Regions from separate parts of the Homo sapiens genome. Here region 1 is linked to region 2. The links come from fine-mapping of genetic effects on gene expression. A gene starts in region 2. The other region holds a variant in brackets. All regions are shown on one strand. Distances are from middle to middle. Region 1 has its middle 13 kb from the start of TRAF3IP1. Region 2 holds the start of LINC02610 (long intergenic non-protein coding RNA 2610).

Region 1 (8,326 bases), 76 kb after region 2:
TTTCCTATTGATGAAGATGAGGCTGGGCCCTGTGTGTCACCCGGTGCAGACACTGAGTCCTGCCACCAGGACGTCCATCTGTGCTGGACTCATTAGAGTCCTGGCCCTCATGGGATGAGAAACGACGTCCCCTGTCCCCAGCGTTCACTTCCTGCGTCCCCAGCATTCACTTCCTGCTAGCACCTGAGACCAGCGACTTGGGTCTCATGGTGCCTCCCACTCCGGTTTTCCAGCTCCCATTCTTCTTTGTCGTCTCCATGCGCCCGCTCAGGACTCCTGAGTTCTCGAAAACTCAAAACTCATCACACAACTGTCCCTCCCAGGCAACTTTTGATGGCATCCCATGACAGGGATAGTGGAGGCTTTTTTATTTCTAGGAATTAAGTTCTTGTCATCTTGGGCTACAGGTTTAGGGCTTCTCCCCAAGGCAGTTCGGAACTCACTCAAAGTAAGAATCATTTCCCCCTTCTCCCAAGGATGCACTTCACCTGATCCTGTCCAAGGCTTCTCATGGTTGTTTTTACTCTTTTCTCCCCATTTCTCCTCCCTCTCCCCAATATTCAGGACATAAAGGTTTCAGGCCATATTTATCTAACTCCAGAGATGACTTTCCTTTAGGACATCTTATGTCGGCCAACAGAGTGCAGTGGCGTTTGCTGCCTCATCTGAGGAGGGCTCCCTGCAGACCTGTGGGCGGAGCTTCTCCTACTGGGAATTGCCCCTCCAGGGCATTGGAGGGGAGGCCAAGGCCTATGACACCCAGAAAAGCCGTTTCTAGCCCTGGCAGCTCTGTACCAACAGCTGCATGGCCCAGTGTGGGGGGTGTGTGTGTGTGTGTGTGTGTGTGTGTGTGTGTGTGCTATCAGCAGGGACCAGCGTCTTTCACTGGCATCAAAAGACTGACCCATTTTCAGCAACAATATTTTTGCAGCCGACGAAGCCTTTGTTAGGTTTGTATAGGCGACCAGTTGAGCCGGGTTTGTGTTTTAGAGAAGTGGTGAAGTCTTAGCAGGTGGGAAGGAAGCTCGGCCATGGCTCTCCAGTGAACTCCCCCGTCCTTTCTTCCTGGAAAATTTCCAGGACCCCATCTGAAGCGTCCCCTCCCAGGACTGACTCTGGTTTGTCTCTTTGCTGGGTTAGGTAGGAGGAAGGCTAGTGGGATGACCATAGCTGATTTTTGTCATCTACTGCTCAGTCTGGATTCCCCACTTCCTCTGCTAGCACCTCTGCTGCGCTTGGGCACCCACCTGGCAGGAGGACACAAACCCTCATCCCAGCCACTACACGCTCTTCAGGCTGCAACTGCTGTGCTTGTCCATTTCCCACCAAAACTGGGCAGGAGCGTGCCAAGTGATGCCCCAGAAGCCAGCTGTGTGCCAGGGTGATTCTCCTCCACCCCGGTTCCAGCAGCCCTTCCTGCTCTTGAGGATCAGAGCCAGTCACCCCTGCTGGGACACCGACTCCTTTCCTTGCTTGCTCGTCTTTTGGCACAGAGCCTGAGTGACCAGTGACAGCCATCGCTTATTGTCCACTGGATCCCCTGGTGGCAGTGTTCCCCCTCTAGAGAACAGGCCTCTAGACCTGCAAAGCACAACATGGAGGGGACGAGAAGTTCAAATTCACCAACTGGATCCCTGGAGGTCATGGTTGGGGGCTGTTCCTGCTTCTGCTCCTGGGTTCCCAGACCCATGCCTTTCATCAGCTGGAGACAGCAATTTATGATGGTCACTGATTTAGGGTATATTTTGTGTCTTAAAGGATGGAATCCCATCCTCAAAGGGTATTTTCTCCTCAGCAGAGCTAACAAGAGGACCACTCCATCACTCACCCAGATTGGCAGCATCTGAACGGCATGGTAAGGAATGGGCCCAGTGGAGCCCACGGTCATGTACCCAACACCATAGATCCTTTGCTGTAAAGTGAGTCTTTTTGGTCCAAAGCAATGTTATGTGGTATTCTATATCCATCGATCAAACATTTTATAAACCTCCAGATAGTGTTCGTAAGGGCAGGAAAGACAAATCCACACTTGGGATATCCAAATCCACACTTTGGGTCAGTCAAAATGAATCACTGCCTCACCTTTAGGGCAATATAATTGAGTTTAAGTCCAATGTAATCAACCTTCCACCTAGTGGCCAGTTGAGTTCCTCCCGGTGGCACTCTGCTGGGAGCTCAGCTTTGGTGTCTTGCTGTTAAGCTGGATGTTTAGCAGTTGCTGGAACTAACTCAGCCTTGGCGAGTTGGAGGCCATACTGTCAGGCCCACACCATCCTGCAACCCTGCCACCACTGCTACTCACTGAATGGCCTATGACAGAGGCAGGCTGACTCCGAACGGCCAAAGCATCTTCCTACATGGCTGCTGGGTGCCTTTTCCATGGTGGTGCTCTCTGGTGGCTGTTAGCAGGGATACAGAGACCTTCACATGCCTGTCCACTCCCATGGTCCTAGCTGCATGCATGACCCTTCCACTAAACTCCTGGTCCCCAACCTTTGAATTTTCCAGGCCCAGAGCAGCAACAGCCGTCTTTTGCCGCTGTCCATGGGTCTGAACATATTCTTATGCCAAGCCACTTCTCTTTCTACACAAAATGGAGAGCTACGTGTACTGCCTAAGCATGGTGGGCAGAACGGTGGGCCCCCACACACGCCCATGTCTGGAACCTGTACATCTGTTTTGGTACAGGGTAAAAGGGACTTTGCAGATGTCATTACATTGAGGATCTTGAGATGGGAACATTATCCTGGATTATCTGGGTGGCCCAATGTAATCATAAATGTCCTTATAAGTGAAAGAGGGAGGCCGGGTGTGGTGGCTCACGCCTGTAACCCTAGCACTTTCAGAGGCTGAGGCGGGTGGATCACCTGAGGTCAGGAGTTCGAGACCAGCCTGACCAACATGGTGAAACCCTCTCTCTACTAAAAATACAAAAAAAATTAGCTGGGCCTGGTGGCGGGCACCTGTAATCCCAGCTGCTCGGGAGGCTGAGGCAAGAGAATCACTTGAACCCAGGAGGTGGAGGTTGCAGTGAGCCAAGATCGCACAATCGCACTCCAGCCTGGGCAACAGAGCGAAATTCCATCTCAAAAAAAAAAAAAAAAAAAAAAGTGGAAGAGGGAGCCAGGAGGGCCAAAGTCCGAGAAGAAGGCGTGGCCATAGAAACAGACGTTAAAATGATGTCGTTTCTGGAAAGGGTGCATGAGCCAGAGAATGCAGGTAGCTTCTAGAAGCTGAAAAAGGAGAAGAAATGGATTCTCCCCTAGAGCCTCCAGAAGGATTACAGCCCTGACCACACCTTGACTTCAGCCCAGTAACACCCAGTTTCAGCTCTGACCTCCAGAATTGTAAGAGATTCCATTTGTGTTGTTTTAAACTCCCAAGTTTTTGGAAATTGGTTACAGCAGCAACAATGAACTAATACACCAAGTTTCTGTCCATGGGGAGATTGGGAGAGGCAGTCTGTCAGCACTGCCTTTCAGGGAGGCCCCGGAGTGAGGCTGCAGTGCAGCAGCTATCTATTTTTAGGCATTTTTTGCATCCCACACTGAGCCAACCCATGCATGAACCAAGCTCGGCCTATTTCTTCCTCCACTAGGTGGTCATAAGTGACACCGCCACCCAACACAGCAGTGATGAAGGTGAGGGACCTCCAGTGGTGCAACAGAGGCAGATGATAGGAGGGTCTTGTGCAGTTTATCTGTGGCTCTGGCCCTGCATAAGCCCAGTGCTGGATGTGCCCTTTCATCTTATCATAGATTTCTGTCGAGCATGCCTGACCTATGCCCTGGAGGCCCTGGCAGAGCCCGGCTCAAGGCAGGCAGCTCTAGTGGTGTGATCACCGCTTGGTGTCTTCCGCTCTGCTAGGGTGCAGAGGCATACCAGCATCTGTCTTCCTTTGCTGCAGATAGCGTGGCCTTACTCCAGAACCCCCAGGGTCCAGGTTGTGATTCTCCCACTGGGGGTTTGCCATGAAGTTATCACACACTCAGAGATTTAAAGCAACAAGGCATCTTTTCCACCATAGGTATCTCTAGAACCATAGCATCTTCCAGATCATTTGGCCTAATTTGCTGGATTGCTAGCACCATAGCCTGTGCCCACTGCAGCGTTCTTCCCCATGCTGGCAGCCTTTCACACCACCTGGTAAATGTGACCACGCAGTATTCCCAAGTGTGGCACGTGCTGCCTCCAGAACCCACAGAGGCGACCAGTCCTCGTGGTCCTTCTTAGTGGTGGGAAGTACACAATGTAGTCCTTCCTTCACTGTGGAGATGCCTGTTAAGCTCCAACCACTGGGCCCCTAAAAACTTCACCGATGCAGCAGACGCCTGGAACTTCACAGGGTTTCTCTCCCACCCTCTGCAGCACACGCACCTTAATAAGGCCTCTGAGGTTTCTCCTCGTCAATCTGGTCATCCAGTTTAATTAATAGGATATCAGTATACTGAACCAGTGCAGCATTGTGCAGAGTGTCTGGTCCATCCAGACTATATTAGGAAAGAGGGAAAAGAGTTAATATGGCCCTGGGGTGAGACAATCAGTGTGT[ATTCTTC/A]TTCTTCTTCTTCTTTTTTGTTTTCTTAAGACGGAGTCTCAATCTGTTGCCCAGGCTGGAGTGCAGTGGTGCAATCTCGGCTCACTGCAACCTCCACCTCCCAGGTTCAAGCGATTCTCCTGCCTCGGCCTCCTGAATAGCTGGGATTACAAGCGCCCACCGCACCCGGCTAATTTTGTGTATTTTTAGTAGAGATGGGGTTTCACCATGTTGGCCAGGCTGGTCTCAAACTCATGACCTCAGGTGATCTGATGATCTGCCCACCTCAGATCCAAAGTGCTGGGATTATTGGTGTGAGCCACCGTGCCCAGCCAATGTGTACTCTTATCCATCCTAAATGAATGTAAGCGGCTTCTGGTTCTCCTCTTAAGTAGGGATGGAAATGAATGTATTGGCTTCCTACCATGGACTTGAGATTGTGTTGACCTGCTATAGCAAAGATACCACAATTGGGGCTCCTATTTGTTTGGGTTTGCAGTATTCCACTGTCAATCCCCAGGATCCATGTGGTTTTTGCAGGGGTTTGGCTAATTAAATGACTCTATAATGGGGAGAAAGTATACCTGCATCCTTCAGGTTTTAACAGTGGAATCTATTCGTCCCTTATAATTGCTGTAACTCTCTTCAGCATGCAATATTGGTTTTTATTTACTGTCTTGGCTGGGGGAGGGGCAGTGTCAGGGATTCCCACTCAGCTTCCCAGGTCTATAGCTCTTATTCCACAATCCCAAGTATCTGGCCAACATGGGGTTACCCCATATGCCAAGTGTGTCCACTTCAATCATTGCATTTGAGGGCTCGGGAAATGACCACCAGGTGGCTCCATGGACCCTGTGGACCTACCAAAATCCAAAGTGGGGCTAGGGCTCTATCACCTGACCCCGTATGCCCTCCCTTTAACAGGAGTCAAGATGATGCTCCATGTCCCCAGGATTCTGTGTGCAATAGTCCTTGAAATGGTTCTGTATTCCCCCTCCCTGTGTATAGTTACTTGAATGAGTGGCCTTAGGTTTCTTTGGGGAAGGACTGTGGGGGAGATTTTGGCTCCCTGCACCGGCAGTGATGTTGGGAACCTGGCCTTTCAATGAGTTCTAGGTCCAAAACCAGGCAAGGGATTGTAGCGGGGGACTGGGGCAGCCACTCTCAGCCTCCTGCTCATCCATGTTTGATTTATTTTAGTTTCGAAAGCTCGGCCACACCCTTGCTGACTGCTCATTCCCCTGGTCCCTAGGAACATTTTGTTGTATTATCCGGCCGCATAGCTCTCTGCATGTCAGGTCTTCCTGGCTACCACTCTGACCTTGCCACTCTTGGCTATAAAAACCAATATTACATGCCAAATATTGTCACTTTGGTAAATGAAGTGACCTCCGAGCCCTCTCACAGGACACAGTGGGCTGGTAGGTTTGCTGGCCCAACATCACGTATGTGCTCTAGTAGGCTCATTTCCCTACCATCCTCCATGGTGGGGCTGGAAGTTTTCCTTCACTTAGTGAAGGCCATAGCTCTTTGCAGGTGTCCAAGAGCCATTCTAACAGCCCATTAGCACTGTCTCCCTGGGACCCAGCCAGGGTCACAAGCTTCTATCACGGAAAGTCCTCCCACATTCATCAACTCTTGTCTTATCCGTCTTTATATTCTGTCCCCTGCTGGGTCCAGCACTCTTGGGATGCAGTCCTGGATGTGCTCTCCTGGATCTTGCTGGTCCATGCTAGGCAGATCCTGCAGTTCCTTCGGAATAGAGTCCCTCCCTCCCTTAGCAGGCCAGCATGTCCTAGCTAGGTTATGTTGTTGTTTGACCCTCATGATTGGTCTGGTGTCAGGAGGGGGATATTGGCATAGATCCTGAAAAACGCATGCATTGTCTTGCAAGGCAGACATCTCTCTCTCTCTCTCCCCCCGCCCCCCAACTATAACACACACATTCTCTCTATATAAAACACTTCAAGAAAGGGGGTGCTAGCCTTTAACAGGAGCAGTGGGCCTCCTCTGTAGGTCCAGATGATTCAGGAGAATCTGGGGATTCTAGTTTGTTTGTTTGTTTGTTTGTTTGTTTTTGAGACAGTGGTCTCTCACGCCCACCCTGGGGGCTTCAGTTGAGCCGGTCAGTGGTGATTCAGCTCCGAAATCTCAATTTAGGGTCCATTTCCTCTGACCACTTCTGAGAGCAACTCTCTTGGGTAGAGATCTCTGGGAAACTGGGTTTGCACCCCCAACTCCATCAGCCCTTGAATGCGGGTGCCCATAGGGAGCAGGAGGCACAGTAGGCCCCTTTGGCTAAGTCTCCCCAGAAGGGAACCTGGCTGTGAGCCCACAGGGATCACTGCTTCTGGCAGCTGGGGCAGTGTGGGCCTCAGCCCTGAGTGGCACAGCACCCACCACAGGGCCAAGGCAGCCATAGCTGAGAGGGCCACGCCTTTTTTTTTTTGAGACGGAGTCTCGCTCTGTCACCCAGGCTGGAGTGCAGTGGCATGATCTCAGCTCACTGCAAGCTCCGCCTCCCGGGTTCATGCCCTTCTCCTGCCTCAGCCTCCTGCGTAGCTGGGACTACAAGCGCCCGCCACCACACCCGTCTAATTTTTTGTATTTTTAGTAGAGATGCGGTTTCACCGTGTTAGCCAGGATGGTCTCGATCTCCTGACCGCGTGATCTGCCCGCCTCGTCCCCCAAGAGTGCTGGGATTACAGGCGTAAGCCACTGCGCCTGGCCAGGTTTTGTTTCTGGCGCCCGGCTGCGCCACTCCTTTTTAAAGACTTCCTCCTTCCTCCTTCAGGCACCCACACGTTCATGCAGCCAGTATTCATGGGGTGCCCTGAGGAGACATATGGACCCTGTCCCAGCCTTCCTGGACCTTGTGCACTAGCTGGGGAAAGTCATGCCCTTGTTTAAGCATGGGCCAGGGGGAGCTGGACAGCACCGCCGGAGCTTGGAGGAGGACTCCTGGGGTCAGTGGGAGTCAACTGCAGGCTTTCAGGGAGTGGCAGGTGGGATATTTCAGGTTGGAGGGCTCAGTCAATTTACCTTCAACAAAAGTGCCAAGAGGCCAGAGGTAGTGGCTCACACCTGTAATTTTGGTATTTTAGGAGGCTGAGGTGGGAGGATAGCTTGACCCCAGGAGTTCAAGAGCAGCTTAGACAATATAGCAACATCCTATCTCTACAAAAAAAAATAAAAATTAGCTGATGGCCGGGCGCAGTGGCTCACGCTTGTAATCCCAGCATTTTGGGAGGCTGAGGCAGGTGGATCATTTGAGGTCAGGAGTTTGAGACCAGCTTGACCAATGTGGCGAAACCCCATCTCTACGAAAAACACAAAAAAATTAGCCGAGCGTGGTGGCACATGCCTGTAGTCCCAGCTACTCGGGGACGCTGAGGCAGGAGAATCGCTTGAACCCAGGAAGTGGAGGTTGCAGTGAGCCGAGATCGCACTACTGCACTCCAGCCTGTGCAACAGAGCGAGACTTCATCTCAAAAACAAACAGACAAAAAATTAGCTGAGCATGGTGGCACACGCCTGTAATCCCAGCTACTTCAGAGGCTGAGGTAGGAGGATTGCTTGAGCCCAGGAACTTGGGGTTACAGTGAACTATGGTTGTGTCATTGCACTCCAGTCTTGGACGCAGGGCAAGTGACACTCTGCCTCAAAAAAAAAAAATGCCAAGAACACACATTGGGGAAATGATGATTTCTTCAATAAACGGTGTTGGGAGAACTAGATCCATATGCAAAAGAATGAAACCAGACCCTCATCTTGCACCATATACAAAAATCA
Region 2 (8,326 bases):
CCCCAGGGCTATTTTGTTCCATGCCATGTGCCGCTCCCAGGAGAAGTGGTACTTCTCCCTCCTGACTCTGTCCCCACCTCCCTAAACAAGCCTGTGGCCCTTTAACAAAGCCCAGAGTCCCATTAAAGATCCTGCCTGGTGCTGGTCCTCAGCTACATGGACTGGGTGGCCCTTTTTATAAGGAATGGCAGCATCAGTTCCCCCTTTCCAGCGGCCTTCTCCACAGGGCTGGCCTGACTCCCCACAGCACTCACCTGGGCAAGTGCGGGCCCATTCCCCGGCTGTCCTCCTGCTGTCCCCCGCAGGTCTTTCTCAGCATGGTGAACATGGGAGCCGGGGCTCTGTCTGCATGAGGGAGGTGCTCAGACCCTGCAGGGCGGGAACAAGGTGGAGGAAGTCGCTGGCGCTGCAGAAGCTGGGCAGTCACCCCCTCCACACCCACTACCAGGGAAGGGGCAGGAAGCATCAGGGGAGTCACCTGCTCTCGTCTGAGAGGGAGGTAGAGGCAGAGGGAGGCTAGAGAAAGACAAAGAAGGCAAGGCGGGGCAGAGGCAGGGAAAGCCCAGCAAAAGTGGGTTGGAGGAAGAGACAGAAACAGGGACGAGAGAATGAAAGAAACAGAGAGAGGCAGAGAGACAGGGAAGAGAGGAGAGAGGAAGGGAGCCAGAGAGAGGAAGAGAGAGCTGGTGAGATGGGGAACAGAAGGATATGAAGGCAGGGGAGGATGAAGACGCAAAGAGAACGAGGTGGAAACAAAGAGAAAGGGAATTCCAACCAACAGTAGGCACTGAGAAAACGGCTTTCCATGCTATTTCATTCAACCCTCAAAACAAGTAGGTACTACTGCCATTCCCATGATGTGGATGAAGAGACAACGGTTTAAGAGATAAAGAGGCAGGAGAGAGAAAATATGAGGCAGGAATACAGACAAGACAGAGACTGCGTATTCAAGGATCAAGAGACAACAGGCTGGGCGTGGTGGCTCACGCCTGTAATCCTAGCACTTTGGGAGGCTGAGGCAGGTGGATCACCTGAGGTCAGGAGTTCGAGGCCAGCCTGGCCAACATGGTGAAACTTCGTCTCTACTAAAAATACAAAAATTAGCTGGGTGTGGCGGCGGGCGCCTATAATCCCAGCTACTTGGGAGGCTGAGGCAGAAGAATTACTTGAACCCAGGAGGAGGAAGTTGCAGTGAGCGGAGATCGTGCCACTGCACTCCAGCCTGGACAACAAAGCACAAACTCTGTCTCAAAAAAAAAAAAAAAAAAAAAAAAAAAGACAACAACAACCCAACAGCCTAACTGCCCATAACAGCATAAACTTGAGAAGAAATGCTGTCTGTCTCCAGCAACTAGAAGAATGCCTGACAAAGAGCAGGCCTCCAGTTAACAACTGTGGAATGAACAAGCAAACATTATCTGGACTATGCCGTCAGGGAAATAAAAGAAGCCTTGGAAACTGCATAAAACGAGGAGTGACCAGGAAAGGCTTCAGGCAGGCAGTCTATCTGAGCCAAACCTGGAGGCATGCAGAGGGCAGAGCAGCGGCTTTGGCCATGCAGCAAACCAAATATCTGGCAAGGGCATGGAGACAGAAGGTGGTGGAGGGGGTGTGGAGGCAGTCAGTAAGTTCTGAGTTGGCCCACGTGAGGACCAGGCCTACTATTCTTTGAGAATCTGCAGTGTTGGGCTTTTGAAAAGACTGAAGCTCAGGGCGTAACCTTCAAGGTGGGGGTTTTCTTAATGACCACTGCCATTCTCCAGGTGACAGCCAAGAACCTGAACTACGAATGCAGGAGCCGGACAGGGGGAAAGGGACGTCTAAGACTCATCCTCTTGTTCGTTCAACCTGTTGAAGTGGCAGGATTGCCAGTTCCTGGACGCTACCTGCAGGGCTCCAGTGTCCCCTGGAACCTGGGAGGTCAAGGTTGCCCAGGCAGGGCTCCAGGGAGGTGTCTCCATGGACCGTCTGGTTTCCAGCCTGAAGGATTGATGCCCTTGTTGCTCTGAAGGATCCAGAACATGAAGGGAGGAGCAGGTTTTGTTGGAAAGCTGAGTTCACATTTGAACTTGTTGCAGAACCTGTGGGATTCCTGAGAGGCGACAGCCAGGGGCATTTGGATAAACTCTATGAGAGCTCCAGAGAGGGCTGGGCTGGAAATAGATTTTGCAGCTGGTAGCACAGCAGGTGAAGCCATGGAGATCATACAGATTACAGCCTAGAAGCTAGAGAAGAGGGCCTAGCAAAGAAATGTGGGGCACAATATTTAAGAAGACAATATTCGCCGGGCACGGTGGCTCATGCTTATAACCCCAGCACTTTGGGAGTGAGGCAGGTGGATTGCTGGACCAGCCTGGGCAACACTACAAACATCTCTCTCTACAAAAAAAATACAAAAATCAGCCAGGCATGGTGATGTGCGCCTATAGTCCCAGCTACTTAGGAGGCTGAGGTGGGAGGATCACTTGAGTCTGGGAGGTCGAGGTTGCAGTGAGCCATGATCGTACCACTGCACTCCAGCCTCCAGCCTGAGACAGAGTGAGAACCTGTCTCAAAAAAAAAAAAAAAAAAGACAACATTTAATATCCAGTTGTGAAGAGCCACTGCCAGAACCTGAGAAGGAATGGTGGAACAAGAAGAGCAAGAAGACTAGACAGAGAACAATTTTTTGAGATAAGGTCTCACTCCCATTGTCCAGGCCAGAGCACACTGGCGTGATCTCAATTCACCGCAGCCTTGACTTCCCGGGCTCCAGTGATACTCCCACCTCAGCCTCTCGAGTGGCTGGGACTACAGGTGCGGGCCACCATGTCTGGCTAATTTTTTGCATTTTTGGTAGAGATGGAGTCTTGCTATGTTGCCCAGGCTGGTCTTGAACTCCTGGGCTCAAGCGATCTGCCTAACTCAGCCTCCCAAAGTGCCGGGATTACAGGTGTGAGCCACCGTGCTCTGGCAAGAACAATGTTTTAAGAAGCATGAGGATGTTGAGTATCAAATGCCGCAAAGTTCGGGTGAGAAAACTGAAGAGTCTACTCGGCAATCAGGAGTTCATTGGAGACTCTGGCAGAAGTTTTCTATAGTAGAATGGCAGGAAATGTAGCCATACTGAAATTTTGTTAGGGACAAACAGGTGATGAGGAAATGAAGAAAATGAGAATGAAGACTGTTTTTAAGAAACTGGAGTGTGAAGAAAACAGTAGGACAATAAGTAAGAAACCTCAACGGGGTGTGAGGACAAGTTCCCCAGGATAAAGTGGATAAGATGGAGGTTGGCACTTAAGATTTGGAGCAGGTTCAACAGAGAGGAATGGCAAGGTTTGAGGGATGGTTCCTGACGTCTAAGGGCGCATTTAATATTCTTTCAAGGTTAAGGTGGGGCAAGATCTGGAGGAGAGAGGATAGTACCCCAAGTGTCATCATCCATTGACAGGTCAATAGGTAGTACAGCGACATGGGAACAGAGCAGGTGTGCACAGAAAGCATGGTTTCCCAGGGAGGGCAGTATTTTTCCATGAGGATGCAAGAGTGAAAAGCCTGGGAGATTCCACGAAGAGCTGAGGGGCTTCTGAGCCACAGCTTAAACCTTAACCCTCCTCCTCTCAGATACATTCAAATCCAAGTACTGATAATAATCTAGTAAGACCTGGGCTTCCCTGGCTACCGTCTATCAAGGAATGCCAGTGTCTGCCTCTGGGCAGTGCGCGTTGGATTTGGGTTCTCTGCGGGGTCTTGCTGATCTTAAAGACAATGCAGGGGCCTTGTGAGTCTCACCTCTGTACCCCCAGCACATAACAGGTGCTCAACACATTCGCGAGGGGAGCGCTGAGCAAAGCGGAGGCCCGGGTTCCCTCCTGGAGAAACCTGCTTCCCCTCCAAGGCCTCAAGCGTCCGCTCCTTCACTGACCTCAATCGTTGATTTCGGCTGCACTTCCTATCCCTGGGGGAGCTTTCAACGCTCCGCCGTCCAGGCCGCCGGGCCCCGCAGCCCGCGCCCCGCTCTCTAGGGCTGGGCCCCCAGGGGCTGGACGACCTCTCTCGCCTTCGCTTTCTCAAGCGTAAATCGGGCGGCGGGGGCTGCAGAGCCTTCATCTCTTCCTCCGTCCCGGGATGTCGGAGAGACGGCAGCCCAGCCTCCGCCACCGCAAAGCTGCTTAACGGGCAGCGCGAGTCCCTCGGGCACCGTTGGAGGCCGTTGCTCACCGTTGGGCAAGTGCTTTAAGAAGCACGAGGATGTCGAGTGTCAAATGCGGCAAAGGGCTCAGAGCTCGCCGCCAAGGGGCGTGGCCTCCGGGCCGCGGCGGCCTCTGGGAGTTGTAGTCCCGCCTCAACTTGTGGTGGCCTCTTTAAAAAAACAAAAAACAAACAAACAAAAAAACACTGGCGCTTGGGTCCGTCGCTGCCTCGGTGTCCCTGTCGGGCTTCCCAGCAGCGGCCTAGTGGAAAAGTAAAAGATGTCTGAATATATTCGGGTAACCGAAGATGAGAACGATGAGCCCATTGAAATACCATCGGAAGACGATGGGACGGTGCTGCTGTCCACGGTTACAGCCCAGTTTCCAGGGGCGTGTGGGCTTCGCTGCAGGAATCCGGTGTCTCAATGTATGAGAGGTGTCCGGCTGGTAGAAGGAATTCTGCATGCCCCCGATGCTGGCTGGAGAAATCCGGTGTATGTTGTCAACTATCCGAAAGATAACAAAAGAAAAATGGGTGAGACAGAAGCTTCATCAGCAGTGAAAGTGAAAAGACCAGTCCGATTTAATAGTGTTGGGTCTCCCATGGAAAACAACTGAACAGGACCTGAAAGAGTACTGTAGTACCTTTGGAGACGTTCTTATGGTGCGGCAAAGCCAAGATGAGCCTTTGAGAAGCAGAAAAGTGTTTGTGGGGCGCCGTACGGAGGACATGACTGAGGATGAGCTGTGGGAGTTCTTCTCTCAGTATGGGGATGTGATGGATGTCTTCGTCCCCAAGCCGTTCAGGGCCTTTGCCTTTGTTCCATTTGCAGATGATCAGATTGCGCGGTCTCTTTGTGGAGAGGACTCGATGAAAGGAATCAGCGTTCACATATCCAATGCCGAACCCAAGCGCAATAGCAATAGACAGCAAGAAGTGGAAGATTTGGTGGTAATCCAGGTGGCTTTGGGAATCAGGGTGGATTTGGTAAGAGTAGAGGGGGTGGAGCTGGTTTGGGAAACAATCAAGGTAGTAATATGGGTGGTGGGATAAACTTTGGTGCGTTCAGCATTAATCCAGCCATGATGGCTGCCCCCCAGGCAGTGCTGCAGAGCAGTTGGTGTACGATGGGTGTGTTAGCCAGCCAGCGAAGCAGCCAGGCCCATCGGATGATAACCAAAGCCAAGGCAACATGCAGAGGGAGCCAAACCAGGCCTTCGGTTCTGGAAATAACTCTTGTAGTGGTTCTAATTTTGGTGCAACAATTGGTTGGGGATCAGCATCCAATGCAGGGTCGGGCAGTGGTTTTAATGGCGGCTTTGGCTCAAGCATGGATTCTAAGTCTTCTGGCTGGGAACGTAGACAGTGGGGTTGTGGTTGGTTGGTATAGAATGGTTGGAATTCAAATTTTTCTAAACTCATGGTAAGTATATTGTAAAATACATATGTACTAAGAATTTTCAAAATTGGTTTCTTCAGTGTGGAGTATATTCAGTAGTATTTTTGACATTTTTCTTTAGAAAAAGGAACAGCTAAAGGAATTTTATAAGTTTTGTTACATGAAAGGTTGAAATATTGAGTGGTTGAAAGTGAACTGCTGTTTGCCTGATTGGTAAACCAACACACTACAATTGATATCAGAAGGTTTCTCCTGTAATATTTTATCCCTGGACTTGTCAAGTGAGTTCTTTGCATGTTCAAAATGGAAGCCATGAATTAGAACTACATTCTTTATTCCTTGTTTTAATTTGAACCCCACCATATGGATTTTTTTCCTTAAGAAAATCTCCTTTTAGAAGATCATGGTGTCACAGTTTGGTTCTTTTGTTTTGTTTTTTAACACTTGTCTCCCCTCAAACACAAAAGTACAATATGAAGCCTTCATTTAATCTCTGCAGTTCATCTCATTTCAAATGTTTATGGAAGAAGCACTTGGTTGAAAGTAGTGCTGTAAATATTCTGCCATAGGAACACTTCTGTCTACATGCCTTCTCATTCAAGAATTCGTCATCACGCATCACAGGCCGCGTCTTTGACGGTGGGTGTCCCATTTTTATCTGCTACTCTTTATTTCATAGAGTCGTATCAACGCTGTGAACGCAAGGCTGTGATATGGAACTAGAAGGCTGTTTGAACTTTTGAAACCTTGTGTGGGATTGACGGTGGTGCTGAGGCATGAAAGGCTAGTATGAGTGAGAAAAGGAGAGAGCACGTGCAGAGACTTGGTGGTGCATAACGGATATTTTTTAACTTGGCGAGATGTGTTTCTCAATCCTGCGGCTTTGGTGACAGTGTGCAGACAGCAATGATAGCAAATAATGTACGAATGTTTTTTGCATTCAAAGGACATCCACATCTGTTGGAAGACTTTGAGTTTTTGTTCTTAGATAACCCACTTTATTTGAATGTGTTAAGTGAAATGATACTTGTACTCCCCCTACCCCTTTGTCAACTGCTGTGAATGCTGTATGGTGTGTGTTCTCTTCTGTTACTGATATGTAAGTGTGGCAATGTGAACTGAAGCTGATGGGCTGAGAACATGGACTGAGCTTGTGGTGTGCTTTGCAGGAGGACTTGGAAGCAGAGTTCAGCAGTGAACTCTGGTGTCTCAAAGAAGGGTAGAAGTTCTAATGTCTGTTAGCTACCCATAAGAATGCTGTTTGCTGCAGTTCTGTGTCCTGTGCTTGGATGCTTTTTATAAGAGTTGTCATTGTTGGAAATTCTTAAATAAAACTGATTTAAAAAAAAAAAACCAAAAATCTAAGTAAAGGGGTCGGAACTACATCTCCCAGGAGGCCCCGCGGCTCGCCTCTGGCGGGGCGGGGCTGGAGGGGGCGTGGTCAAGGCCTCGGCTCCTCCGAGCGCCTCCCAGCTCACGGCGCCCCCCGAACCCGGCTCCAAGGGACTCGGTATTCCCCAGCGCCGGCTCCGGGCAGTCCCGGAAGGGCTCAAGGGCTGGGCGACTGGCTGATCGAGACCGTCCGGGTCCTGGCTCTCGGGTCACTTGCAGAGGCCTGAGCAGAGCGTAGGGAGGGCTGGAAGGGAGGAGCCCCGGGGGGCGGCGGTGCTGAACCGGGTAGAGTCTTGAAGGTCACGGTCAGGACTGGAGTGGGAGGGGAGTCAGAGGCCTGCTGCGGAGGCCCAGGTTAGAAACGAGGCTGCCTTGGACTCGGTCGGTGGCAAAGAAGACGACACGTGGAGGCAGGGCTTAGAAGTAGAGCTCCGCCGGGCTTGGTGGCTCACGCCTGTAATCCCAGCACTTTGGGAGGCCTAGGCGGGCAGATCACGAGGTCAGGCGATCGAGACCATCCTGGCTAACACGGTGAAACCCCGTCTCTACTAAAAATAGAAAAAATTAGCCGAGCGTGGTGGCTGGCGCCTGTAGTCCCAGCTACTTGGGAGGCTGAGGCAGGAGAATTGCTTGAACCCAGGAGGCGGAGGTTGCAGTGAGCCTAGATCTCCCCCACTGCACTCCAGCCTGGGCGACAGAGTGAGACTCCGTCTCAAAATAATAATAATAATAATAAATTAATAAATAAAAATAAAAAAGAAGAAGAAGTAGTGCTCATGGGCTTGACTGATAGGACGTGGGATGGCAGGAAGAGGGTGAACTTGAGGGTGACATCTAGATTTTTTTGCTCAATCCATGGGGTACCAAGAAGTGGTAATGCCTGAGGATCTGTTGTTTTGGTGGTGGTGTGAGCCCATCTGACATCTAAGTGCAGTCACTGAGTGGACAGGAGGATACAGAGGAGCCAGCCGCCTGGAGAGGGGCTTTGAATCAAGGGCATGGGATTGGCAAAACGGGCCAGATGGTGTCACTGGGTGTGGGGGCGGCAGGGAAGGCTGAGGACAGAGCCTTGGGAAGAACACGTCCAGTTGGAGGGCGGCAGGGAAGGCTGAGGACAGAGCCTTGGGAAGAACACGTCCAGTTGGAGGTCGGCAGGGAGGAGCATTGAGTACAGGGGACTGAGGATGGCCGATGAGGTAGAAAGAAGGCTGGTGTGGTGCCCTTGAGACTGGAGAAGGAGCCTCCAGATGGATGAGTCATAACCCACGAGAAGTGAAGCTGACATGCGGACATGCCCACTGGGTTGGGAAACATGCTCGTTACTAGAGATTTTGACTGTGCAGTTCCAGTGGAAGGGTGGAC

Evidence for each region. PIP is the estimated chance that this variant, and not a neighbour inherited with it, causes the effect.
Region 1: its variant is fine-mapped to the expression of LINC02610 in whole blood (INTERVAL, PIP 0.98).

The regions. Positions count from the first base shown.
Region 1 is chr2:238,303,001-238,311,326 of GRCh38, forward strand. No RefSeq gene overlaps it. Among named protein-coding and RNA genes, the nearest start is that of TRAF3IP1, 13 kb to the right of the region's middle. The variant ATTCTTC/A (reference allele first, on the strand shown) is at 4,550.
Region 2 is chr2:238,227,430-238,235,755 of GRCh38, forward strand. It overlaps LINC02610 (long intergenic non-protein coding RNA 2610), which reads right to left and starts at 4,248. Exons shown (of 3, transcript NR_026926.1): 1 at 3,905-4,248; 2 at 255-369. It also overlaps the pseudogene TARDBPP3. RefSeq lists an enhancer at 6,813-7,314 and silencers at 7,015-7,144, 7,295-7,384.